Homo sapiens: one gene and its partners. The protein of the gene in region 1 purifies or fractionates together with the protein of each later gene. This does not show direct contact. Each region holds a gene or a part of one and is shown on either strand. Other genes may lie near its edges. The genes, in order: CA9, IPO7, XPO5, G3BP2, HADHA, HEATR3 and TNPO1.

Region 1 (2,366 bases):
CTGCAACTTCCGCCTCCCGGGTTCAAGGGATTCTCCTGCCTCAGCTTCCTGAGTAGCTGGGGTTACAGGTGTGTGCCACCATGCCCAGCTAATTTTTTTTTGTATTTTTAGTAGACAGGGTTTCACCATGTTGGTCAGGCTGGTCTCAAACTCCTGGCCTCAAGTGATCCGCCTGACTCAGCCTACCAAAGTGCTGATTACAAGTGTGAGCCACCGTGCCCAGCCACACTCACTGATTCTTTAATGCCAGCCACACAGCACAAAGTTCAGAGAAATGCCTCCATCATAGCATGTCAATATGTTCATACTCTTAGGTTCATAATGTTCTTAACATTAGGTTCATAAGCAAAATAAGAAAAAAGAATAATAAATAAAAGAAGTGGCATGTCAGGACCTCACCTGAAAAGCCAAACACAGAATCATGAAGGTGAATGCAGAGGTGACACCAACACAAAGGTGTATATATGGTTTCCTGTGGGGAGTATGTACGGAGGCAGCAGTGAGTGAGACTGCAAACGTCAGAAGGGCACGGGTCACTGAGAGCCTAGTATCCTAAGTAAAGTGGGCTCTCTCCCTCTCTCTCCAGCTTGTCATTGAAAACCAGTCCACCAAGCTTGTTGGTTCGCACAGCAAGAGTACATAGAGTTTGAAATAATACATAGGATTTTAAGAGGGAGACACTGTCTCTAAAAAAAAAAACAACAGCAACAACAAAAAGCAACAACCATTACAATTTTATGTTCCCTCAGCATTCTCAGAGCTGAGGAATGGGAGAGGTCTATGGGAACCCCCCTTCATGTTCCGGCCTTCAGCCATGGCCCTGGATACATGCACTCATCTGTCTTACAATGTCATCCCCCAGGAGGGCCCGGAAGAAAACAGTGCCTATGAGCAGTTGCTGTCTCGCTTGGAAGAAATCGCTGAGGAAGGTCAGTTTGTTGGTCTGGCCACTAATCTCTGTGGCCTAGTTCATAAAGAATCACCCTTTGGAGCTTCAGGTCTGAGGCTGGAGATGGGCTCCCTCCAGTGCAGGAGGGATTGAAGCATGAGCCAGCGCTCATCTTGATAATAACCATGAAGCTGACAGACACAGTTACCCGCAAACGGCTGCCTACAGATTGAAAACCAAGCAAAAACCGCCGGGCACGGTGGCTCACGCCTGTAATCCCAGCACTTTGGGAGGCCAAGGCAGGTGGATCACGAGGTCAAGAGATCAAGACCATCCTGGCCAACATGGTGAAACCCCATCTCTACTAAAAATACGAAAAAATAGCCAGGCGTGGTGGCGGGTGCCTGTAATCCCAGCTACTCGGGAGGCTGAGGCAGGAGAATGGCATGAACCCGGGAGGCAGAAGTTGCAGTGAGCCGAGATCGTGCCACTGCACTCCAGCCTGGGCAACAGAGCGAGACTCTTGTCTCAAAAAAAAAAAAAAAAAAGAAAACCAAGCAAAAACCAAAATGAGACAAAAAAAACAAGACCAAAAAATGGTGTTTGGAATTGTCAAGGTCAAGTCTGGAGAGCTAAACTTTTTCTGAGAACTGTTTATCTTTAATAAGCATCAAATATTTTAACTTTGTAAATACTTTTGTTGGAAATCGTTCTCTTCTTAGTCACTCTTGGGTCATTTTAAATCTCACTTACTCTACTAGACCTTTTAGGTTTCTGCTAGACTAGGTAGAACTCTGCCTTTGCATTTCTTGTGTCTGTTTTGTATAGTTATCAATATTCATATTTATTTACAAGTTATTCAGATCATTTTTTCTTTTCTTTTCTTTTTTTTTTTTTTTACATCTTTAGTAGAGACAGGGTTTCACCATATTGGCCAGGCTGCTCTCAAACTCCTGACCTTGTGATCCACCAGCCTCGGCCTCCCAAAGTGCTGGGATTCATTTTTTCTTTTTAATTTGCTCTGGGCTTAAACTTGTGGCCCAGCACTTTATGATGGTACACAGAGTTAAGAGTGTAGACTCAGACGGTCTTTCTTCTTTCCTTCTCTTCCTTCCTCCCTTCCCTCCCACCTTCCCTTCTCTCCTTCCTTTCTTTCTTCCTCTCTTGCTTCCTCAGGCCTCTTCCAGTTGCTCCAAAGCCCTGTACTTTTTTTTGAGTTACGTCTTATGGGAAGGGCCTGCACTTAGCGAAGAAGTGGTCTCAGAGTTGAGTTACCTTGGCTTCTGGGAGGTGAAACTGTATCCCTATACCCTGAAGCTTTAAGGGGGTGCAATGTAGATGAGACCCCAACATAGATCCTCTTCACAGGCTCAGAGACTCAGGTCCCAGGACTGGACATATCTGCACTCCTGCCCTCTGACTTCAGCCGCTACTTCCAATATGAGGGGTCTCTGACTACACCGCCCTGTGCCCAGGG
Region 2 (3,500 bases), on another chromosome or scaffold:
AGAAACCCCATCTCTACTAAGAATACAAAATTAGCTGGGCGCGGTGGCGCATGCTTGTAATCCCAGCTACTCAGGAGGCTGAGGCAGAAGAATCGCTTGAACCTGGGAGGCGGAGGTTGCGGTGAGCTGAGATCGTGCCACTGCACTCCAGCCTGGGCAACAGAGTGAGACTCCATCTCAAAAAAATTAATTAATTAATTAAATTTAAAACATTGGCTGGGCATGGTGGCTCATGCCTGGAATTCCAGCACTTTGGGAGTCCGAGGCGGGCGGATCACCTGAGGTTGGGAGTTCGAGACCAGCCTGACCAACATGGAGAAACCCCGTCTCTACTAAAAATACAAAATTAGCTGGGCGTGGTGGCGCATGCCTGTAATCCCAGCTACTAGGGAGGCTGAGGCAGGAGAATCGCTTGAACCCGGGAGGTGGAGGTTGCGGTGAGCCGAGATCGTACCATTGCACTCCAGCCTGAGCAACAAGAGCGAAACTGCGTCTCAAAAAATAAAAATAAAAATAAATAAATAAATAAATTTTTTTTTTTTTGAGACGGAGTCTTGCTCTTGTTGCCCAGGCTGGAGTGCAGTGGCGCAATATGAGCCCACCGCAACTTCTGCCTCCTGGGTTCAAGCAATTCTCCTGCCTCAGCCTCCCAAGTAGCTGGGATTACAGGCGTTTGCCACCACACCTGGCTAATTCTGTATTTTTAGCAGAGATGGGGTTTTACCATGTTGGCCAGGCTGGTCTCCAACTCCTGACCTTGTGATCCGCCCACCTCGGCCTCCCAAAGTGCTGGGATTACAGGAATGAGCCACCATGCCCAGCCTATTTATTTATATTTATTTTTTGAGACAGGGTCTTGCTCCATCACCCAGGCTGGAGTGCAGTGGCACCATCATGGCTCACTGCAGCCTCTCCCTCTCGGGCTCAAGCAACACTCCCACTTCAGCCTCCCAGGTAGCTGAGACTACGGGGATGTGCCACTATGCCCAATTAATTTTTGTATTTTTTGTAGAGACAAGGTTTCACCGTGTTGCCCAGGCTTATTTTTAATTTTTTCAGAGCTAAGGCCTTGCTATGTTACCCAGGCTGGAGTGCAGTGGGCTCCACTGCACTACATAGTACACTACAGCCTAGAACTCTTGGCCTCAAGCAGCGTCCTCCCATCTGAGCCTCCCAGGTGGCTGGGACTGCAGACACGTGCTACCACGCCTGGCCTAATTTTACTTAACTTTTCTTCTCCCCACTATAATTTTAAGTTTCTTGAGGTCATGAATTGTTATTTTTTGTTATTGTTATTCCTTGATTTCCCAGTAATAGGCTTTATGACTGACTTCCTGTTATAATATTAATAAATAACAGTATAGGCTTTAGCTCTTTTATTTATTTTTTAAAATTTATTATTATTATTATTAGTATTTTTGTGGCAGGTTCTCACTCGGTTGCCCAGGCTAGAGTGCGGTGGCATGATCTTGGCTCACTGTAGCCTCCAATCCCAGGTTCAAGCGATTCTCAGTCCTCAGCCTCTTGAGTAACTGAGACTACAGGTGCCACCACATCTGGCCAATTTTTGTATTTTTAGTAGAGACGGGGTTTCGCCACATTGCCCAGGCTGGTCTCGAACTCCTGACCTTAAGTGATCCACTCACCTTGGCCTCCCAAAGTGCTGAGATTACAGGCATGAGCCACCACACCAGCCGGTGTTTTTAAATATAATGCCAGGAAGATTTTTATTAAATACTCATTCCGAAGGATAATTCCCAGTCTGGTTCATGTAACAGCAAATGTCTGTGTGCTAGGCACTGAGCTAAGTAGTTAGATGCAGAGAAATTTATGATCACTGCCTTTCTAGAGCTCCATAATCACCACGTCACTGGCCCATACAATACATGTGGTCAGTACTATAATAAAGCTACATGTAAGTTTTGGATGACGAAACTATTAGATCTGATTTTGGCTAAGGTGGATATGATCTCCGCATCAATAGTCTTTCCCCTGTTATATTCGCAGTCAAGAAAAATGCTGTAAGTGGAATTAGAGGGTTTACCCAGGAGACATTTAAACTCTTAGTTCCTAAGCTCAATATGGTATATAATGGTTATATATGTATATACACCTTTTTTTTTTTTTGAGTGGAGTTTCGCTCTTTTTGCCCAGGCTAGAGTGCATTGGTGCCATCCGGCTCACTGCAACCTCCATCTCCCGGGTTCAGGCAATTCTGCCTCAGCCTCCCGAGTAGCTGGGATTAAAGGAATGCACCACCACACACGGCTAATTTTTGTGTTTTTAGTAGAGACGGGGTTTCACCATGTTGGCCAGCCTGGTCTTGAACTCCTCACTGCAGGTGATTGCCCACCTCAGCCTCCCAAAGTCTTGGGATTACAGGCGTGAGCCACTGCGCCTGGCCTAATTTTATATTTTTAGTAGAGACGGGGTTTCGCCATGTTGGCCAGGCTGGTCTCGAACTCCTGACCTCAGGTGATCCGTCCGTCTTGGCCTCCCAAAGTGCTGGGATTACAGGCCTGAGCCACCGTGCCCGGCCTAATGGTTTTATATGTACAGGCAGCAGTGCTACTTTCTCACTTGCTTTATATGAAAAAGTGATCTTGCTTTTGGTAAGTTTCTTGATATTTTGTGTGTGTGTGTGTTTTTTTTTTTTTAACTCACACTACCCTGGATCACTTTTGGGATTGTCACAAAAGGTTAACTATTACTGCTGTATGTGATATACCTTACTTATAAATGGTTCATTTGATTCCATTTTATTAAAAGTATTTAATGAAAATCTTAGGTCTGGAAAAGTGTAAAATAATGGCATATTTGTAAGATAATTTGGAATGTTTAGAAATTAAGCAAAATATTTTAGGAAGACCAGAGTAGCCTGTAGTTTAGATAACATTCCTTCACCAGGAATATTTTGAAGTACTGTTCTGAATTTGGGAGAAGGAAAGTCCCTGGATACTTCGGCTGTTAGATAGCAAGTTATTCAATGATATAGCTTGTTAAAGATCTGAAAGAGTTTGGGCGCAGTGGCTCACGCCTGTAATCCCAGCACTTTGGGAGGTAAAAGCAGGAAGAGGATCGCTCGTCCAGGAGTTTGAGACCAGCCTGGGCAACATACAAAAAAAATTTTTTTTTTTAGCCAGAGCCTCGCTCTGTCACCCAGGCTGGAATGCAGTGGCGCAGTCTTGGTTCACTGCAACCTCTGCCTTCTGGGTTCAAGCAATTCTCCTGCCTCAGCCTCCCGAGTAGCTGGGACTGCAGGCGCCCGCCACCACTCCTGGCTAATTTTTGTATTTTTGGTAGAGATGGGGTTTCACCTTGTTGGCCAGGCTGGTCTTGAACTCCTGACCTCAGGTGATCCACCCGCCTCTGCCTCCCAAAGTGTTGGGATTACAGGCATGAATCACAGCGCCCGGCTGCTAAATGATTTCTAATAAAAAAGTTTTTTTTTAAAGTTCCTAGTTGGAGGTCAGATGCGGTGGCTCACGCCTGTAATCCAG
Region 3 (3,500 bases), on another chromosome or scaffold:
TCCACATTAAATAGTAATGAAAGCTACTGCTGATCTCGGCCACCAACATCTGTCTTTAAAAAGATGCTGTATCTATAAGTTCTCTTAAGTAAATACAACTGCTCTTCTGGCTGAAAAACCTTATTGTAGGCTAGAAATGAAATTCATGGGACAGGGCTGGCAGTAACAGATGTTGGATTTGTCATTTTCAATGCTCTTTTTTTCCCCTTTACAGTTTTCATATCCTAGGGAAGGCAGGCCCTTCCATGCAGCAAGACTTCTATACTGTGGAGGACCTTGCTACCCAGCTTCTCAGCTCAGCCTTTGTCAACTTGAACAATATTCCTGACTACCGACTCAGACCCATGCTTCATATCCTTTCAAAAGTCTCTACATAACCCAAAAGGTCAGAAAATTAGAGAGAGAAACAAAACAGGTCACAGCAACCAGAGGGAAGAGGCAGAACTGGAAGGAAGAGATGAGATTATGTATCTAAGTGTATCATGTCATTAAAAACACTGGCAGATTGCAGGGAAAACATGAAGGCAGTCCAGATGGCCATAAACTTTTCCTTAGGGGTAAATTTTTACCTTCCCCCTTCTCGGAATTATTACAGATAAAACTTTTTTTTTTTTTTGAGACAGTCTTGCTCACTCTGTTGCACAGGCTGGAGTGCAGTGGTATGATCTCGGCTCACAGCTTCTGCCTCTCAGGTTCAAGCTATTCTTGTGCCTCAGCCTCCTAACTAGCTGTGATTACAGGTGTGCACCATCACGCCCAGCTGATTTTTATTCCTATTTTTTGAGACAGAGTTTTGCTCTATTGCCCAGGCTGGAGTGCAGTGGCATGATCTTGTCTTACTGCAACTTCCACCTCCTGGGTTCAAGTGATTCATGTGCCTCAGCCTCCCAAGTAGCTGGGATTACAGGCGCATGCTACTACGCCCAGCTAATTTTTTTGTATTTTTAGTAGAGACAGGTTTTCGCCATGTTGGCCAGGCTGGTCTCAAACTCCTGACCTCAAGTAATCCGCCTGCCTCAGCCTCCCAAAGTGCTGGGGTTACAGGTGTGAGCCACCATGCCCAGCTGTGAAAGATAAAACTTTTATCCCTTTTCTGTATTTTTAGAAGCACTTTTTTTTTTTTTTTTTTGAGACAGGGTCTCAGTGTTACCCAGGCAGGAATGCAGTGGTGCCATCAAAGCTCAGTGCAGGCTCAAGTGATCCTCCCACCTCAGCTTCCTGAAGAGCCTGGACTGGACCACAGATGCGCACCACCACACCCAGCTAGTTTTTATTATTATTTGTAGAGATGGGTCTGTATTATGTTCCCCAGGGTGGTCTCAAACTCCTGGCTCAAGTAATTCTCCTGCCTCAGCCTCCAAAGTGCTAGAATTACAGGCCTGAGCCACCACACCCAGCCAGAAGCAGCAGTTTTAACACTTCATTCTCATTCAGACCCTTATTAATAGTTGAATCTCTTTCTTTCTTTTCTTTTTTTTTTTTTTTGAGACGGAGTCTTGCTCTGTTGCCCAGGCTGGAGTGCAGTGGCGTGATCTCGGCTCACTGCAAGCTTCGCCTCCCAGGTTCACACCATTCTCTTGCCTTAGCTTCTCGAGTAGCTGGGACTACAGGCGCTCGCCCCCATGCCCGACTAATTTTTTTTTTTTTTTTTTTTTTTTTTAGTAGAGACGGGGTTTCACCATGTTAGCCAGGATGGTCTCGCTCTCTTGACCCCGTGATCCACTCGCCTTGGCCTCCCAAAGTGCTGGGATTACAGGTGTGAGCCACCGCAGCCAGCAAATCTTTCTTACCTGAAATTATAAGGAGAATGGTGAAGGAGAGTTTGTTACAAGGATGTCCTCCTTCCTATTTTTTTATTCCTACTTTTTGGGCCAGTGACCATAATGTGCAGCCTGACGGAAATGCAGCTAAACTAAGAGTATAATGGAATTCAATATCAGTGCCATTTAGGATTTTAGGAAAAGAACTTTAAGATTTTTTCACTGTTAACACAGGATATTTTTGACATCTGGCAAATCCTTTAGGGATTGATTCTGCCCAGGGGTGCAACCCACCACCTGGCAGGTGAGAGATGTGTGCCTATGCACTAAAATTTCTTAACTTGTTGCAGCACGTGTCTTTGTAAAGCCTCTGGTGCTCTTCTGTCCCCCAGAGCACTATGAAGCCCTGGTATCCCCCATCCTCGGACCTCTTTTCACCTACCTCCATATGGTAAGAGATAAGTCAGGAACAGGAAGCAAAGAGTACTATTAAGGCCTCTGGCCATTTCTGAGCTTTGCAAGTCAGGAGCTCCTAGAAGTGTTGTCTACTAGCCCTGCCAGACTGGCTGGGCAGAGCTTCTACCCCAGCTGACTATCCTTGCTGTAGGATCGAGCAGCCCCCAAAGAACTAAACTGATTTAATTGCCACAAGACAGCTTCAGTTGCAGATTCTGCTCCTAACCTCCTGTTAACTGAGGAGAGGTAAAAAGAGGAATGCTTGCTCACAGACCCTTGCCAGGAATGCTGGGTCTGTTATCCTTACTCTAGAATTAAGCAGGGGGACCAGCTGGGTGGAGAACAGGTATGTCTAGAGACCCAGGAATTCTAAAAATGTTGTTAATTCTTTCCAAGCAAAGAGGTGTTTGAGATACCACCTTCATCAGGGATGTGGGATAGGTTACAGAAACCATAGATGTTTTTTTTAACCTTGTGGTGTGGAGTCTACAGAAGTTGTCATTGATGCCTAGAATCATCCTTGGCTAATTTTAATCATGAAGTGGACTTGACTTTAGATATTATGTGTTCCAATCCTTTCCCCAATTCTAGCATTTATTTCCTTTGTGTTTTCCCAGAGGCTTTCTCAGAAATGGCAAGTTATCAACCAAAGGAGCCTGCTGTGGTAAGGGATACCTACCCACTCTTCTTGGTGGATGAACTGGCAGCCAGGTTTGGGGTGGGAAAAGGAAGCGGGCAGGGATTCTGCTGTCCCAGGGTAGAAGAGCAGTAGGTTGTAGTCATTCTCAGCCTAGGTGATACATGGCTTGTCTGGACAGGCTGTTACCAGCAGGCAGACTCTGAGATCCAGCCTTCATAGGGGCTACTGTTACCTTACTCACTTATTTTAATTCTGTAATGTCTATCCAACTGGACAGAGTCACTAGTAATAATGTCCTTCAGTGGATCACTGCTGTCCATTCCCAACTTTTGCATAAAACGAAGACCCAAAGGAGAAGAAAGTGGTCAGAGAGAGTCTGATTAGGGTCGCTGCTTTCCTTGTCCTTCCTTTTCTGCACTCCTGTGGAACTTGGCCCCCTGGTTTTCTGCAGTGGAGAAGATGAGGCTGCAGATGAAAACCCAGAGTCTCAAGAGATGCTGGAGGAGCAACTGGTGAGGATGTTAACCCGAGAAGTCATGGACCTAATCAGTAAGTGGCATGTCGAAACTGGGGCTATAGAGGATTTTCCTGGAAGAAGAGCTGGTCGCTCAGCCAACTCCATGAAGGCCTGACTAATGCAAAGG
Region 4 (3,500 bases), on another chromosome or scaffold:
CCTTACTGGATCTCGATTTCCTAGTTTACAAATTGAGAAGAAATCCCCGGTCAAGCCTACAAGACTATACAGTTCTACAAAGATAGCCAAGAAGGCCTGGTGCAGTGGCTCACACCTGTAATCCCAATATTTTGGGAGGCCAAAGTGGGTGAATCGCTTGAGCTCAGGTGTTTGAGACCAGCCCAGGCAACATGGCAAAACCCCGTCTCTACTAAAAAATACAAAAAATTAGCGGGGCGTGGTAGTGTGCAAGCGTAGCTCCAGCTACTCGGGAAGCTGAGGTGGGAGGAATGCCTGAGCCCGGGAAGTCAAGGCTGCAGCGAGCCAAGATGGCACCACCGCACTCAAACCTGGGTAACAGGAGTGAGACACTGTTTAAAAAAAAAAAAAAAAAGATAGCCAAGATTAAAGGATACTTATACACAAAAAGAAATCTTTAGAAAGTTCTTAGATTAGCACCTTCAAAGATAACTACCATCTTCAATAAGGTGGTTGTTAGCCTCACCTAACAACCTTTTTAGAAAAAGTTAAATACAATATATCACACTCCACTTCTTCCAATGACACCTGAAAATGTGAAGAATCTCACACAGGAATGCACAGTGTAAAATTTTATCTGATACATTAGCTCTATACACAGTCAAAGCTCTCTCATGAACAAATCCGTCTTTTACTTGTCAAATGAAAACATTATCCAAGGCCAGGCGCAGTGGCTCATGCCTACTTCCCAGCACTTTGGGAGGCAATGGCAGGAGGATCACAAGGTCAGGAGATCGAGACCATCCTGGCTAACACAGTGAAAGCCCGTCTCTACTAAAAATACAAAAAATTAGCCAGGCCTGGTGGTACGCGCCTATAGTCCCAGCTACTCAGGAGGCTAAGGCAGCAGAATTGCTTGAACTCAGAGGCAAAGGTTGCAGTAAGCTGAGATCACACCCTTGCACTTCAGCCTGGGCAACAAGAGCGAAACTCTGTCTCAAAAAACAAAAAACCGAAAACATTATCCAGTATAGTTTAGAGGCTTTTTACTCTCCAACTCTGCCTATCGCACCTAAAATCCCAGTGAATCTTCATCAGAATATTTTATTCATTCCTGTTTCTTAAAATGTTTCCTCTGCATTTGCCTAATTCCTGAAGCACATGCACTTCAGCTCTCACGGAAAATTGCTCTATATTTGTCACCATATTTTCTGAATCTATTAATTATACACATTGAGAGAGAGTGGAGTATTGGTAGATAATACACACTGAGAGGGAGTGGAGCATTGGTAGACATACATGCAGATTAGAAAAGAAAGTCACATTGAGCTTCATTATCCTACAATGAACTTATATTTCCTCAGTTTCAAAATAACGTAAAAACCAAAGTTATCACTCTCCTTTCCTCAAACTTTGACTAAAACGTCACCTTTTAGGTAAGAAACATTTAGGTTTTTTGTTTACCATTTAAAGTTCAGTGAATCACTACTATAATGGGGCTGCCTCCAAAACAATCAATCTTAGGCTACATTAATTTAGATGTAATATCTAAAATGAGTTGATTGCTAATTGAATATAGTGAATGGAAATTATAAGAAGGTAGATTTGGGTGAAACATAACACAAGAATAACGCGAGTTGTCCAAATATCAAATAGAGCTACTTAACAAGTAGCCAGTCACTACAGGTATTCCAGAGACTAACTGAATGGTTTGGCACAAACATAGTAGAGTCCATACATCCAAAAAAGTAAGATTAGGCCATTCCAACACTAAGATCCTAAAAGTCTGTTAACAAGAAGCAGGACTTTTGACTTCTCCTCCAATACTCATCTCACACCTTCCTATCTGCAATGATTGAAACCCTATGCATTTATCTGGGCCCAGCAGAAATCCTGTCCCCTTGAAAATCTTTCTACTCCTACTGAATTCCTCAACAGAATATAACTCTTCTCTATTAACTCTTAAAGCACTTTTGGCCTTTATCATAGCAGTTTATTGATCATGCTCTGCCCTAAATTACTAACTGTACACCTGTCTTCATCTTCTATTCCCCTCTCAAATATTATAACTCAGCTCTCCTTTGAATGCAATTCTCTGGAAACATCACAATTCTTCTCAATAATCGAATGACTTCTCAATCCTCCACCCATCTGCATTATCAATGTTGACTACCTCCTCCTAACTCTTCTAGAGTTCTATAAGGCAAATTTTCCTTCTCATCCAAACGCAGAATTTCTCAAGGTTCTGTCTTCTAACCTGGCAATTTCAGCTTCTGGTCTCATGTCTACCTAAACGTGTATCTAGTCTATACCATAAGTTCAAATTTTACATTTGTCACCACATACTGAACACCTAGACATGACCCACATATGTCCCAATACACGCATGCACCAAAGAAAGCTATTTCCTTATTTCTGTTAAAAGTGTCATAATCTTCTCAACTTGAAAGCTCAGTCGTGACTTTCTCCCCTTTAGCTTTGCCACTTAAACTGTGAAATCCTTACAATTCAGAAGGTGGAATTTGTGCCCTCCTTTTCACTCCCACTGTTCAGACCTTTTATTCTTCAAAAGTCTTTCAAGCCCCTGTATCACGTGTAGTATATACTGTACTGAGTAAAATCCAAACACCTGCATTCAGTTTGGCATCTAAGGCCCTACACAGAAATCCAGTCTGACATTCAATGTCATAACCAACCTTTCAAATTTATCTCCTACTATACTTTCTCATCCCTGTATCAAATTCTATACAAATATTTTAATCACCTAATATTATTCTCTGCAATTTCACTCTCTGCGCCTTTGTCTTACTTCATTCATTCCCATCCACAAGCTGAGTCAATGGGTTATACAAAATAAATTCATTTCAACATTTATTTTATGGCTACTATGTATGTACCAGAAACTACAAAAGGAAAAAGAGGCCGGGTGCAGTGGCTCACGCCTGTAATTCTAGCACTTCGGGAGGCCGAGATGGGTGGATCACCTGAGGTCAGGAGTTCGAGACCAGCCTGACCAACATGGCAAAACCCATCTCTACTAAAAACACAAAAAAGTTAGCCGTGTGCAGTGGCGGGCGCCTGTAATCCCAGCTACTCAGGAGGCTGAAGCAGGAGAATCGCTTGAACCCGGGGGCGGAGGTTGCAGTGAGCTGAGTTGTAAGTACTTGGTATTAGTTATTATAAAAAGAATAAGACCTCTAGTAATAGGAGGCAGTTCTCTTTACCAGATACTGTTACCAAAGGTTATGTGGGTGCTAAGACACAGCTTATCTCCACTATAGGATACTTACCCCTTTCCCCTCTGGAGTCCCTCACTCATAGCTGGGCTCAAACTAGTCAGGTTTATTTATTTTAATTGAACCATGGACTATATCCATTTCCAACAGCTAAATGCATATTAATACTGGAACTTTCTGAAATTCCAGATGGTTTTTGTTTGAAGTAACTTAAACAATCTAAGGAACACTATACCTTTTTAAAGAAATGACCTTCAATCTTTTGTGGTACACCATTGAATGAAA
Region 5 (3,500 bases), on another chromosome or scaffold:
GATTCTGACCAAAAAAATGATGTGTGCTAGATAGCAGCAGTGCCCTGAAACTAGCATGCAAGCATCCCAAACAGCATTCCATACCATCACCAAAGTAAGAAATTGTTGCTCTAAAATAGTTTCCTCCCCCAGTCTCTCTTGAATAGTGTCCTGGGTTCCCCTTTTCGTCTTAGAAACATCAGGTTCTGGCGAGTGCCGCTCACCACACTGCTGACTTGGGACAATAGTTCCTGTCCTCTCTTGGGAATAGTTTAATCAGGCATTAGAATTAGAGCAACTGATAATGTTTTGAATGCTGACAAGTATCTTGTTTGCTGACTGCTGTCATGATTGTCAAAAACAAAAGCTTTGAGCCCATACTTTTAAGACCTTATTTGATGTTTTTGTTTCTTTTGAGACAGTCTCACTCTATTACCGAGGCTAGAGCACAATGGTGCAATCTTGGCTCACTGCAACCTCTGCCTCCCGGGTTCAAGCGATTCTCATGCCTCAGCCTCACGAATAGCTGAGACTACAGGCATGCGCCACCATGCACAGCTGATTTTTGTTTTTCTTATAGAGACGGGATTTCACCATGTTGGTTAGGCTTGTCTTGAACTCCTGGCCTCAAGTGATCCGCCTGCTGCAGCCTCCCAAAGTGCTGGGATTACAGATGTGAGCCACCATGCCCAGCCCTTAAGACCTTCTTTGAATACTCCTTTGTATTTATCTTGTGGCCTTAATTTTGCTTTTGGTTAAGGAAATTAGTGAATGGGGTTTAGCTTCATTCTTCATTTAGAGGAAAACTGTAGGTAATTTATTCTGAAAGTGTGGTCAGACGGAATCTAAGAGAACCTGTTTCCCTTGGCGACGAAAAATAATCAGTTGAATGTCTGAATAACAGGAATCCTTTTCTGCTCCCTATGGGAAAAAAGAAACCTTGAGTTAATATTTTATGTAATCAGTGCAATGTGCTACTAGGTAATGAGTGGGAAGTAGATGGAGAATATAGGAAATAATGCTTGGTCTCTGTTCTTTAGAAGATTACAACCACAGGCTGGGCGCGGTGGCTCACGCCTATAATCCCAACACTTTGGGAGGCTGAGGCGGATGGAACACGAGGTCAGGAGTTCAAGACCAGCCTGGCCAAGATGGTGAAACCCCATCTCTACTAAAAAAAAAAAAAAAAAAATTAGCCAGGCGTGGTGGTGGGCGCCTGTAATCCCAGCTACTCAGGAGGCTGAGGCAGAGAATTGCTTGAACCCAGGAGACAAGAGGTTGCAGTGAGCTGAGATCACGCCACTGCACTCCAGCCTGGGCAACAGAGCGAGACTCCGTCTCAAAAAATAAATAAAAAAAAAAAAAGATTACAACTACAGAATAACATAAAATTATATATTTGCGATAAGCAAATATAAACCATGTGGTCTCAGACACACTTTGGCTGCTTCCCCTGTCATAGGTAGAGAATTACCAGAACTCCTCTTTTGTTTTGCCATTCTAGTATTCATGTTATTTACTCCTCTTGGCAAATTTAACTGGTTTAAGAGTGATTTAGTTTACGTAAATTGGGCATTTGGAGGCATTCTATGGTAGAAAGAATGTGTACTTGGGAGTTAACATGTCTTTGAATGCTAGCACCCTCCCTTATCAAGCTATTTGACCACAGGTCCCTCTAAGACTAAACAACTTGAAAGTCTCCCTCAAAATGGGAGTAATAGAATAACTACCTCACAGAGTTGGTGAAAAACACAGGTGTGCTCTGGCCCATGGACATTCAATAAACGTTAGTTTCCTTTTCTTCCCATCTAACTAGGAATGTGTTTTTTCTAGATTGAATGACAAAGTGAAGAAGAAAGCTCTAACATCATTTGAAAGGGATTCCATCTTCAGCAACTTGACTGGGCAGCTTGATTACCAAGGTTTTGAAAAGGCCGACATGGTGATTGAAGCTGTGTTTGAGGACCTTAGTCTTAAGCACAGAGTGCTAAAGGAAGTAGAAGCGGTAAGCAAGGGGCTGTTGTACTTGAATCCTAGTGTAGTGAACAGAAAACACAGAGATTTTTTTTTTAAAGGAGCTATAGGAAACTCATGATTGCTTTTATAAAAAGGACTATTCAAAGGCTGGGCATGGTGGCTCACGCCTATAATCCCAGTAGTTTGGGAGGCTGAGGTGGGCGGATCACGAGGTAAGGAGTTCGAGACCAGACTGGCCGATATGATGAAACCCCATCTCTACTAGAAAATACAAAAATTAGCCGGGCATGGTGGCACACACCTGTAGTCCCAGCTATTTGGGAGGCTGAAGCAGGAGAATCACTGGAACCTGGGAGGCAGAGGTTGCAGTGAGCCGAGATCACGCCACTGCACTCCAGTCTGGGTGACAGAGCGAGACTCCATCTCCAAAAAAAAAAAAAAGACTTTTTGTTATCAAACGTTAAGTTTTTATGTGTGCTCATGCACACTGCATATGTTATAAAGGTCAAATCTAAATTCTAAAGGAAGAAAATGAGGGTGCGTTCACCTTATTCATGTAGGAGCTCTGTCACCCAAACATACAGATAACCTCACAGAGTATAGCCAGATGCTTTGAGATTTTTTGGTTAGCCGAAAGCCAAAAACAAACCTCTTCAGGTCTAAGGCTGCAAAGGAAATAGGGAAGACAGTTCGTCCAGATGCTTGTTCTGTGGAAATGCTGCTTTGGCCCAGCTCCCAAATGTTCTCCATAGGCACTTCTTGAGATGGGCTGACATGAACAAAACAAGTACTTGAAGTGGGGAGTAGGAAGAGTAAGCCCCGAGAAGGAGTAATAGCAGTAATTCAGGGATGAGGTAGGACCAAGGCCTAAGCTAGTCTACAGTTGGATAAACAGAATGTGGGTTACTGAAAGGTGAACATGAAATGATTCTGACTTGGCAACATGCTGGATATAATGAGCAGTGAGCTCATTACAAAAAATAAGAGTACCACAGAGCAAAACTCCGTCTCAAAATAAATAAATAAACAAACAAACAAACATTATCTTCTCTTATTGCCCATAGAGCTAACAAAACCCATTCCTTGGACAATCTTCCACAGGCATGATCTCTAGACCACCCCGTTTCGGTTGTCCTCTCTAGTATCTTCCTCATGTCTCCGTGTTCTACTGCTGTGTTTACAACTATCTTTTCACAATTCTGCAATCTGGGCAGGGCTCTGCAGAGACAGTGGTGCTTAAGTCCATTGATTTCAAGGCTGGGGTCACTCCTGGGCTGCATTCCGCAGGAAGCTCGGTTGGGGCACCTCACTGCTTCCCCCACATCTCTCATAGTCCATCCTCACTTAGTCGTCTCACCACAACTTCTTTGTAGCGTGGCTGCAGGCTTCCAAGAGAACAAAAGCAGAAGCTACTGAGCTTCCTAAGTTTATTGTCAGGAAGAAAAAAAGATAAATAATTTAAAAAATAAAAAAAGAGGCTACCGGGCCCCACAGGTCTAGGTAGGCCTGGAACTGGCAGGGTAACTTCTGCTGCATTGTGTTGA
Region 6 (3,500 bases), on another chromosome or scaffold:
ACAAAAATTAAAAAAATTAGCCAGGCATGGTGGCATGCACCTGTAGCCCTAGCTACTCAGAGGCTGCGGCAAGAGGATTGCTTGAGTCCAGGAATTTGAGGCTGCAGTGAGCTATGAACGTGCCACTGCACTCCAGCCTAGGCAACAGAGTGAGACTCTGTCTCTAAGGGGGAAAAAAAAAGACAATTGAAAACTGAAGTTTGGAAATATTCAAATAGTAAAATATACATTATTTTTAGCTCATGTACTGTTTTGGAATATCAGTATGGTTATTTCACTTTCCATAGACAATTTGATAATTAAGGTTATATAAATTTATATTACCCATTTTAAGAAATGTTGGTTGATAATGTTAAGTTTAAGTTGGCGTTATATATTTTCAGAGAAAAAAAAAGCTTCCTTCTTTCTTTAGTCTTAGAGAAATGCTTTATTATAGTCTTTACAGAAAGGCAGGAAGCAAGTCTGTCTGCTCCATAGCAAGTTCTACAGGTCACATAAGGGCTCGTTAGTAGTGTGTGTTAGCGCAGCCATTCCAAGAAAGACATCTAAGCTAAGCATCTAAAAGCAGGTTTGGTGTTTCTAAGTGCCTGGTGTCTGAAATGAACTCTTGTTTAAATCTTAGTATGCCCAGCTACTTCTTGACACAGTAGATAAGTTTCAGGGTGAATTCTGTTCAGAATTCCTGAATATTTGTCTGTTCTCTCCAGCTAACTAAGTGACGCTTGGGGAATAGCCATGCAGATAGATGGAAACCCAGTTAACGGGGGCATGCTCCACTGTACCAAGAGGAATTATAATGCTCGTTTGTACTTCTGGCACTTCATGACTTTTCTTTTACCTACCCCATTCCCCGTGTGCTCTATTCCAAGCGCAAAAATCTTCTAGTAGGCTTTCACTAAGGAAATTCCCCAAAAACATTTTCCCAACCATTGAGAGTTGGTCATTTACTTTTTTTTTTTTTTTTAAGCCCACTGACAAGGAACTGAGAGAGACTATAGCATTGCTGACAGCCCAACAGACTGCTCTGGAAATTATTGTCAACATGTGCTGCAATGAAGGTTTGTTAACATTTACATTTAGACATTTTCCCCCTGAGCCAAGAGGGAAACTCCCGTGGAGATTTTCTTAACTATTCCAGTTCTGCGTGGTTTGCCCGCTTCCCAGATCCCTCTGATGACGAATGGGAAGAGCTTTCTAGCAGTGATGAAAGTGACGCATTTATGGAGAATTCCTTCAGTGAGTGCGGGGGACAGCTGTTTTCTCCCCTCTGCCTCTCCCATGAAGTTCACACGGCTCTCACCAACTACCTCATCCCAAAGAAGGTAATCCATTTTCATTCTAGGCTTACCGTGGAGCATGGGAAAGGCTTAAGCAAGGTATTCATTTTGTGTACAAAAGAAGCAAGCTCACACTTCCAGGTTGTAGATGGTGGTAAGATCTGAGACAAAGCTGAGCCTAACAGTACTGGAAATAGGCGAAAAGGTCATTCTATATGAAGCCTAACCATTTCACTTAGGAGTAATATGTTGGAATTATGTAAGGGAATCGTGTTAAATGACTACTCTTTAACCTTTGCTTTACTGCCTCTTTTAAATCTAGATTTTTGAGAAAACTGCCTTTCCAAACAGCATTGCAGTTGACCTATGTTCTAGGAACCCTACTTGGAAACCTTTGATTAGAAAGTAAGAACTCTTCTGCTTTCAAAAACATTTGTCATTATTTTATTTTATGAAATGATGGGCTATTAAATAGAAGGTGCTGACTCCCCCTAGGACCCAGAAGTTTTGTTCCTGGGTATATATACCAGAAAAATATGTGCCCACATGCCCTAGAATACATGTATATGAGAGTGTTCATAGCAGTGTGTGTCACAGTTGCCCCAACCCATAAACAAACGTGTTGTCCATCAGAGTTAGAATGGTAAATAAATTTTGACAAAATCACGCAGTACAATACATGCAGCAGTAAAAGGGATCTGAATTAGAGCTACTCACAACTCGGATGGAACTTACATTGTTGAACCAAAAAAGCGAGACATAAAAGAATACACACACTGTGATTCAGTTTTTACAAAGTTGAGAAACAGGCAACATTGAACTATTTTGTTCAGGGATGCATACCTTGGTGATAAACCTATTAAAAAAAAAAAGAGGCAAGGAAATGTTTACCATAGAAGTCTGTATGGTGCTTACCTGTAGGTGTCAGGGAGGTGGGATATTATATGGAAGAGATACAGGGGCTTTCAGGGTCCAGCAGTGTTAATTTCTTTCCCAGGTGCATGGGTTTTGGTTTCATAGACTGTTTGTTAAACTCTCTATGTATGTTGTGTACTTAACTGTATATATGTCACATTTCACAATTAAAAATAATTTTAGGCTGGGCATGGTGGCTCACACCTATAATCCCAGGACTCTGGGAGGCCAAGGTAGGAGGATCACTTGAGGCCAGGAGTTTGAAACCAGCCTGGGCAGCATAGCAAGACCCCATCTCTACAAAGGAAAAAAAAATACAAAAATTAGCCTGGCATAGTGGCACTCAGCTGTAGTCCTAGCTACTTAGGAGGCTGAAGTGGGAGGATTGCTTGAGCTCAGCAGTCTAAGGCTGTAGTGAGCTATGATGGTGACACTGTACTCCAGCCTGGGAAACAGAATGAGACCCTGTCTGAAGAAAATTATAATTTTAAGGATGCTACCCTACATAGAAATTTTTCTAAAACATATTCCTCATGACTCATGAATGAGTTGTGTATCAGAGGCCGTGAATATTCAAGCAGTTTGATTTGGCAGATTAACAGTTCACCTTATAATTCTAGCACTTTGGAAGGTACAGGCAGGAGGATTGTTTGAGGCCAAGAGTTCCAGAGCAGCCTGGGCAACATAGCAAGACCCCTATCTACAAAAAATAAAAAACTTAGCCAGGTGTGGTTGCATGCACATGTAATCCTGCTCCTTAGGAGGCTGAGGCAGGAGGATCACTTGTGCTCAGGAGGTTGAGGCTACAGCGAGCTGTGATCACACCACTGCACTCCAGCCTGGGCAACAGAGTAAGACCCTGTCTAAAAAATGATGATAAATTTTAGAAAACACAAAAAACAGTTCACCTTGTGATTCTTTGCTAACTGCCATAGATACCTTGTATTTACAGATATTTCCAGTCAGAACGTGAAGCTTAGGCTAAAAGTTAATACTGAATTCTGATGGGCAACTTCTGGAGAATCAGATGGCATTGTTTCACTTCCTTTCCAGAATGAACACTATTCAGTGCAGAGCCCTCTTCTGTCTCCAGAGTCTTGTGTCCCTCCTGGATGTGGAGCACCTGGGAGGAGCCGCAGCCCTTCAGACGCTTGCACAGCATCTGTCACAGCTGCTTTTTTCTCAACCAGGTATTTAGACTTTATTGCGAAAGACTACGCAGACGGAACAGAATTTTGAAGGGGCAGGAATTTGGATTTTGTAAATGTATATTGTTTGTCATCCAATGTGCAGAAACCTTTCCCAGAC
Region 7 (3,500 bases), on another chromosome or scaffold:
TAACTTTCCTCCCACTGTTTCTAGAGGTGGGAAAGATATCTGTCATGAGTCTTCTTACTTCTTTCAGACTATGCTTCCTCCTTTCTCCCTATAATCTTCAGTTTTGAATTATGTCATAAAGGCCCACTGTCCCACTCTCCAGTCTTTATATTGAAATTGATAAGAATGTACATAACTGATCCACCCAAACCCTGGCCTCTCACTTCCTAGACCTCTCTTCCAGTGCTCTTCCCATCTATGCTATATCAGCCACTCATTCCACAGTGATACCCTCGTGCACTGTCAATAACTGCAGTCCCTCCATAGTTGCCATTTCATGTGTTCTGCTCTGTTACCGCTTCTTCCTATTTTTGCAGCTCACTCCTAGTGCCTCAGCCCTAACCATCTTCTGACCCCAATGGAATCTCCAACCCATTGATCCTATTACTGCTCCCCTGCCCCTTACCCTCTTGATGTTTTCACTCCCTTTTATGTGGAATTTACTCATCTAAATTTCATGATTAATCAGTTTAATTACTTCTTTGGATCCCTTTCCTTGCTCTTTGCTTGTTTGGCAAAACCAGAGCTCTAGTTAAAACAAACTCTGGGGTTTTTTTTGCACTTGCCCCTATGTAACTGAGCATGGCCAGAAAAAAAACCACACAACCACACATGGCCACAAACCTTAAGTGGGTCTGTAATGCTGCCTGATGGTTGTACTGTATTTTCCTAGTCTGCTTACTCTTCCACTCCTCTAAATGACTATTTCATATCTTATTTTCCCCAAACCTTCTATATCTCTTTTCCCATCCTCACCTTCAGCTCATGACCTTGCTTCCCACTTTGCTGAGAAAATTGAAGTAATCAGAACTTCCATAGATTGCCACCACTCCACATACCTCTGGCACTCTATTTATGAAAGGGTCTGCGCAGCATCTGCTCAGTACATGGCTGTCTTCCTGCCTGTTACCTTAGATTAACTGTTCATATTCTTGTCTGCCTTTGTACTAGGCCCCATTCTCTCTCATCTGCTCAAGGACTTTGCTTCAGGTTCTCTTCTTCCACATCATCAATTTTGTTCTTTTTATTGAATCATTTCTATCAGCAAACAGATATGCTATTATTTCTCCCCTCTTAGGAAAAAATCTTGTCCCACTTCACCACATTACCCCAATTTTTTGTTTCCTTTGGGAGCAGTATTTCTCAAAATAGTTGTCTGTACTTGCTATTGCCAAGTTCTCTCCTCTAGTACTCTGTTAAACCCACTCTAGTGAGGTCTTTGTCTGCACCACTCCCACAGAAACAGCTCCTCTGGTTCTTCAGTAGCCCCCATATTGTTAAATGCCCTGTGTTATTGATTCTCATCCTATGTGACCTGTCAGCAGCATTTGACACAGCTGTTTGCTTCCCTTAGCCTTGAAACCATTTCTTCTTTGCCTTCGAGGACGTCACACGTTCCTGGTTATCTGCTGTCTCAGTGCTGGTCCTTGTAATTCTCCTTTTCCTTTATTTTCACTGACCTCTTAATGTTGGAGAGCCCCAAGTCTTAATTGTTTGTTTATTTGTTTCTATCTATGCTCACTTTATTGGTAATCTCATTTAGTCTCATGGCTTGAAATACCATGTAAATATCAACAATACCCAAATTTAGATCTTTAGCCCCCTCCTCAATTCCAGTCTTACATGTGCAACTACCTATTCAACATCTCCCCTAAATGTTTAATAATAGACATCAAAGTCAGCATATCCAAAACTAAACTCCTAAACTTTCTCCCCAATGCCTGCTTTACCCACAGACTCTCCCATTTCTGTCAGTGGCAACTCCGTCCTCCTGTAGCTCAGACCAAAATCTTGGCCTTATTTTTTTACTTCACTTTTTCTTTTACTCTTCAGATCTGTTCTTTCAGGACAATCTGTTTTCTGTATCGTCAAAATACATCGAAAATCCTATCATGCCTCACTGCTTCCTCCACTGCCACCACCCTTGTCCAAGCCACTACCATCACATCTTGTTGGATTACTGAAATAGGTTACTACCTGGTCTGCCCCTTCTGCCCTATCCCCTTCCAACAGTATTTTCTCAATACAGTAGCCAGAATAAACCTTTCGCAAATTAAGACAGTCCCTGTCACTTCTCCTGCAATGGCTCCTGTTACGATCTGAATGTATGTGTCCTCCCAAACTGTTGAAATCCTAACTCCCAAGGTATTAGGAAATGGGAGTGGAGTCCTCATGAATAGGATTGGTGCCCTTAAAAAGTCCTAGAGGCCAGGTGCGGTGGCTTATGTCCGTAATCCCAGCACTTTGGGAGGCTGAGGTGGGCGGATCATGAGGTCAGGAGATCGAGACCATCCTGGCTAAAACCGTGAAACCCTGTCTCTACTAAAAATACAAAAAATTAGCCGGGCGTGGTGGCACGTGCCTGTAGTCCCAGCTACTCGGGAGGCTGAGGCAGGAGAATCGCTTGAACCCAGGAGGCGGAAGTTGCAGTGAGCTGAGGTCACGCCACTGCACTCCAGCCTGGGTGACAGGGTGAGACTCTGTCTCAAAACAAAACAAAACTCTAGAGAGATCCCTTGCCCTTTGTCTCTTGAGGACACAGCAAGAAGTCTGTGAGCTAGAAAGCAGCCCTCACCAGATACTGAATATGCCTTGCTCTTGGACTTCCCATCCTACAGAATGGTAAGCAATCAATTTCTGTCATTTATAAGCTATCTCATTTATGGTATTTTGTTATAGCAACCCGAATGGACTAAGACATTCCCTTTCATTCACTCAGAGAAAAGCTGGTCCTGTGAGGCTCTACATGATCTGCCCAATCCACTCCACTTTCTCCTTACCTTCCTGACCTCATTTACTGTTACCACTGTTCTCCCCTTACTCACTGGCCTGCTTGCTATGTCTGTCCTGTTCCTACTTTAGGACTCTTGCTGGCTCCACTCTCTGAAATGTACTTCTTCCACATATCTGCTTGGCTCAATGGACTTACCTCCCAGTCTTTGCTCAGATCTTACCATCTATGAATACCCTGTTTAATACTATATTCTATCCTGCCCTTCCCCACCCACTCTTATCCTGGACTCCTTTTTATTTTTTGCATAGCACATACAACCTTCTAACATACTATATTAGGGGTCAGCAAGCCACAGCTCCATGAGCTTCTGCCCTGTTTTTGTACATCCTATAAGCAAAAGAATGGTTTTTACATTTTTAAACGGTTATGAAACAAAGCAAAAAATACGTGACATATATATGTGGCCTGCAAAGCCTAAAATATTTACTCTCTGTCCCTTTTCAAAAAAAGTTTACACTATGTATTTTATTCTGTTTATTGTCCTCCTCCTCCTGCAAGAATACAAGCTCCAAGAGGGCAAGATCTTTGTTTTATTTTTTGCTGTATCTGCAAGATACAGATACAGAGCCTAGAATGTAGTAGACACTTAGTAAGTATTTGTTAAATGAATTGTTCGTGATGGTGCAAAATGGTAATTATGTTAAATGTTCACCAATAGACCTATATA

The links.
Region 2: the proteins of CA9 (region 1) and IPO7 purify together in Homo sapiens (affinity purification with mass spectrometry, with the first as the bait; one study listed by BioGRID). This does not show direct contact.
Region 3: the proteins of CA9 (region 1) and XPO5 purify together in Homo sapiens (affinity purification with mass spectrometry, with the first as the bait; one study listed by BioGRID). This does not show direct contact.
Region 4: the proteins of CA9 (region 1) and G3BP2 purify together in Homo sapiens (affinity purification with mass spectrometry, with the first as the bait; one study listed by BioGRID). This does not show direct contact.
Region 5: the proteins of CA9 (region 1) and HADHA purify together in Homo sapiens (affinity purification with mass spectrometry, with the first as the bait; one study listed by BioGRID). This does not show direct contact.
Region 6: the proteins of CA9 (region 1) and HEATR3 purify together in Homo sapiens (affinity purification with mass spectrometry, with the first as the bait; one study listed by BioGRID). This does not show direct contact.
Region 7: the proteins of CA9 (region 1) and TNPO1 purify together in Homo sapiens (affinity purification with western blotting; one study listed by BioGRID). This does not show direct contact.

The regions. Positions count from the first base shown.
Region 1 is NC_000009.12:35,676,928-35,679,293, forward strand, and holds part of CA9 (carbonic anhydrase 9 precursor), read left to right. Parts: intron 1-749; coding exon of another isoform or gene 750-764; exon of another isoform or gene 765-862; coding exon 863-929; intron 930-2,257; coding exon 2,258-2,366. UniProt on the Homo sapiens protein: Catalyzes the interconversion between carbon dioxide and water and the dissociated ions of carbonic acid (i.e. bicarbonate and hydrogen ions).
Region 2 is NC_000011.10:9,387,652-9,391,151, forward strand, and holds part of IPO7 (importin-7), read left to right. Parts: intron 1-3,500. UniProt on the Homo sapiens protein: Functions in nuclear protein import, either by acting as autonomous nuclear transport receptor or as an adapter-like protein in association with the importin-beta subunit KPNB1.
Region 3 is NC_000006.12:43,527,539-43,531,038, reverse strand, and holds part of XPO5 (exportin-5), read left to right. Parts: intron 1-214; coding exon 215-351; intron 352-1,662; exon of another isoform or gene 1,663-1,683; coding exon of another isoform or gene 1,684-1,790; intron 1,791-2,113; coding exon 2,114-2,211; intron 2,212-2,833; coding exon 2,834-2,880; intron 2,881-3,307; coding exon 3,308-3,405; intron 3,406-3,500. UniProt on the Homo sapiens protein: Mediates the nuclear export of proteins bearing a double-stranded RNA binding domain (dsRBD) and double-stranded RNAs (cargos). XPO5 in the nucleus binds cooperatively to the RNA and to the GTPase Ran in its active GTP-bound form.
Region 4 is NC_000004.12:75,666,912-75,670,411, forward strand, and holds part of G3BP2 (ras GTPase-activating protein-binding protein 2), read right to left. Parts: intron 1-3,500.
Region 5 is NC_000002.12:26,199,633-26,203,132, reverse strand, and holds part of HADHA (trifunctional enzyme subunit alpha, mitochondrial precursor), read left to right. Parts: exon of another isoform or gene 1-813; coding exon of another isoform or gene 814-900; intron 901-1,812; coding exon 1,813-1,984; intron 1,985-3,500. UniProt on the Homo sapiens protein: Mitochondrial trifunctional enzyme catalyzes the last three of the four reactions of the mitochondrial beta-oxidation pathway.
Region 6 is NC_000016.10:50,082,970-50,086,469, forward strand, and holds part of HEATR3 (HEAT repeat-containing protein 3), read left to right. Parts: intron 1-967; coding exon 968-1,058; intron 1,059-1,138; exon of another isoform or gene 1,139-1,164; coding exon 1,165-1,322; intron 1,323-1,599; coding exon 1,600-1,682; intron 1,683-3,245; coding exon 3,246-3,382; intron 3,383-3,500. UniProt on the Homo sapiens protein: Plays a role in ribosome biogenesis and in nuclear import of the 60S ribosomal protein L5/large ribosomal subunit protein uL18 (RPL5). Required for proper erythrocyte maturation.
Region 7 is NC_000005.10:72,823,161-72,826,660, forward strand, and holds part of TNPO1 (transportin-1), read left to right. Parts: intron 1-3,500. UniProt on the Homo sapiens protein: Functions in nuclear protein import as nuclear transport receptor. Serves as receptor for nuclear localization signals (NLS) in cargo substrates.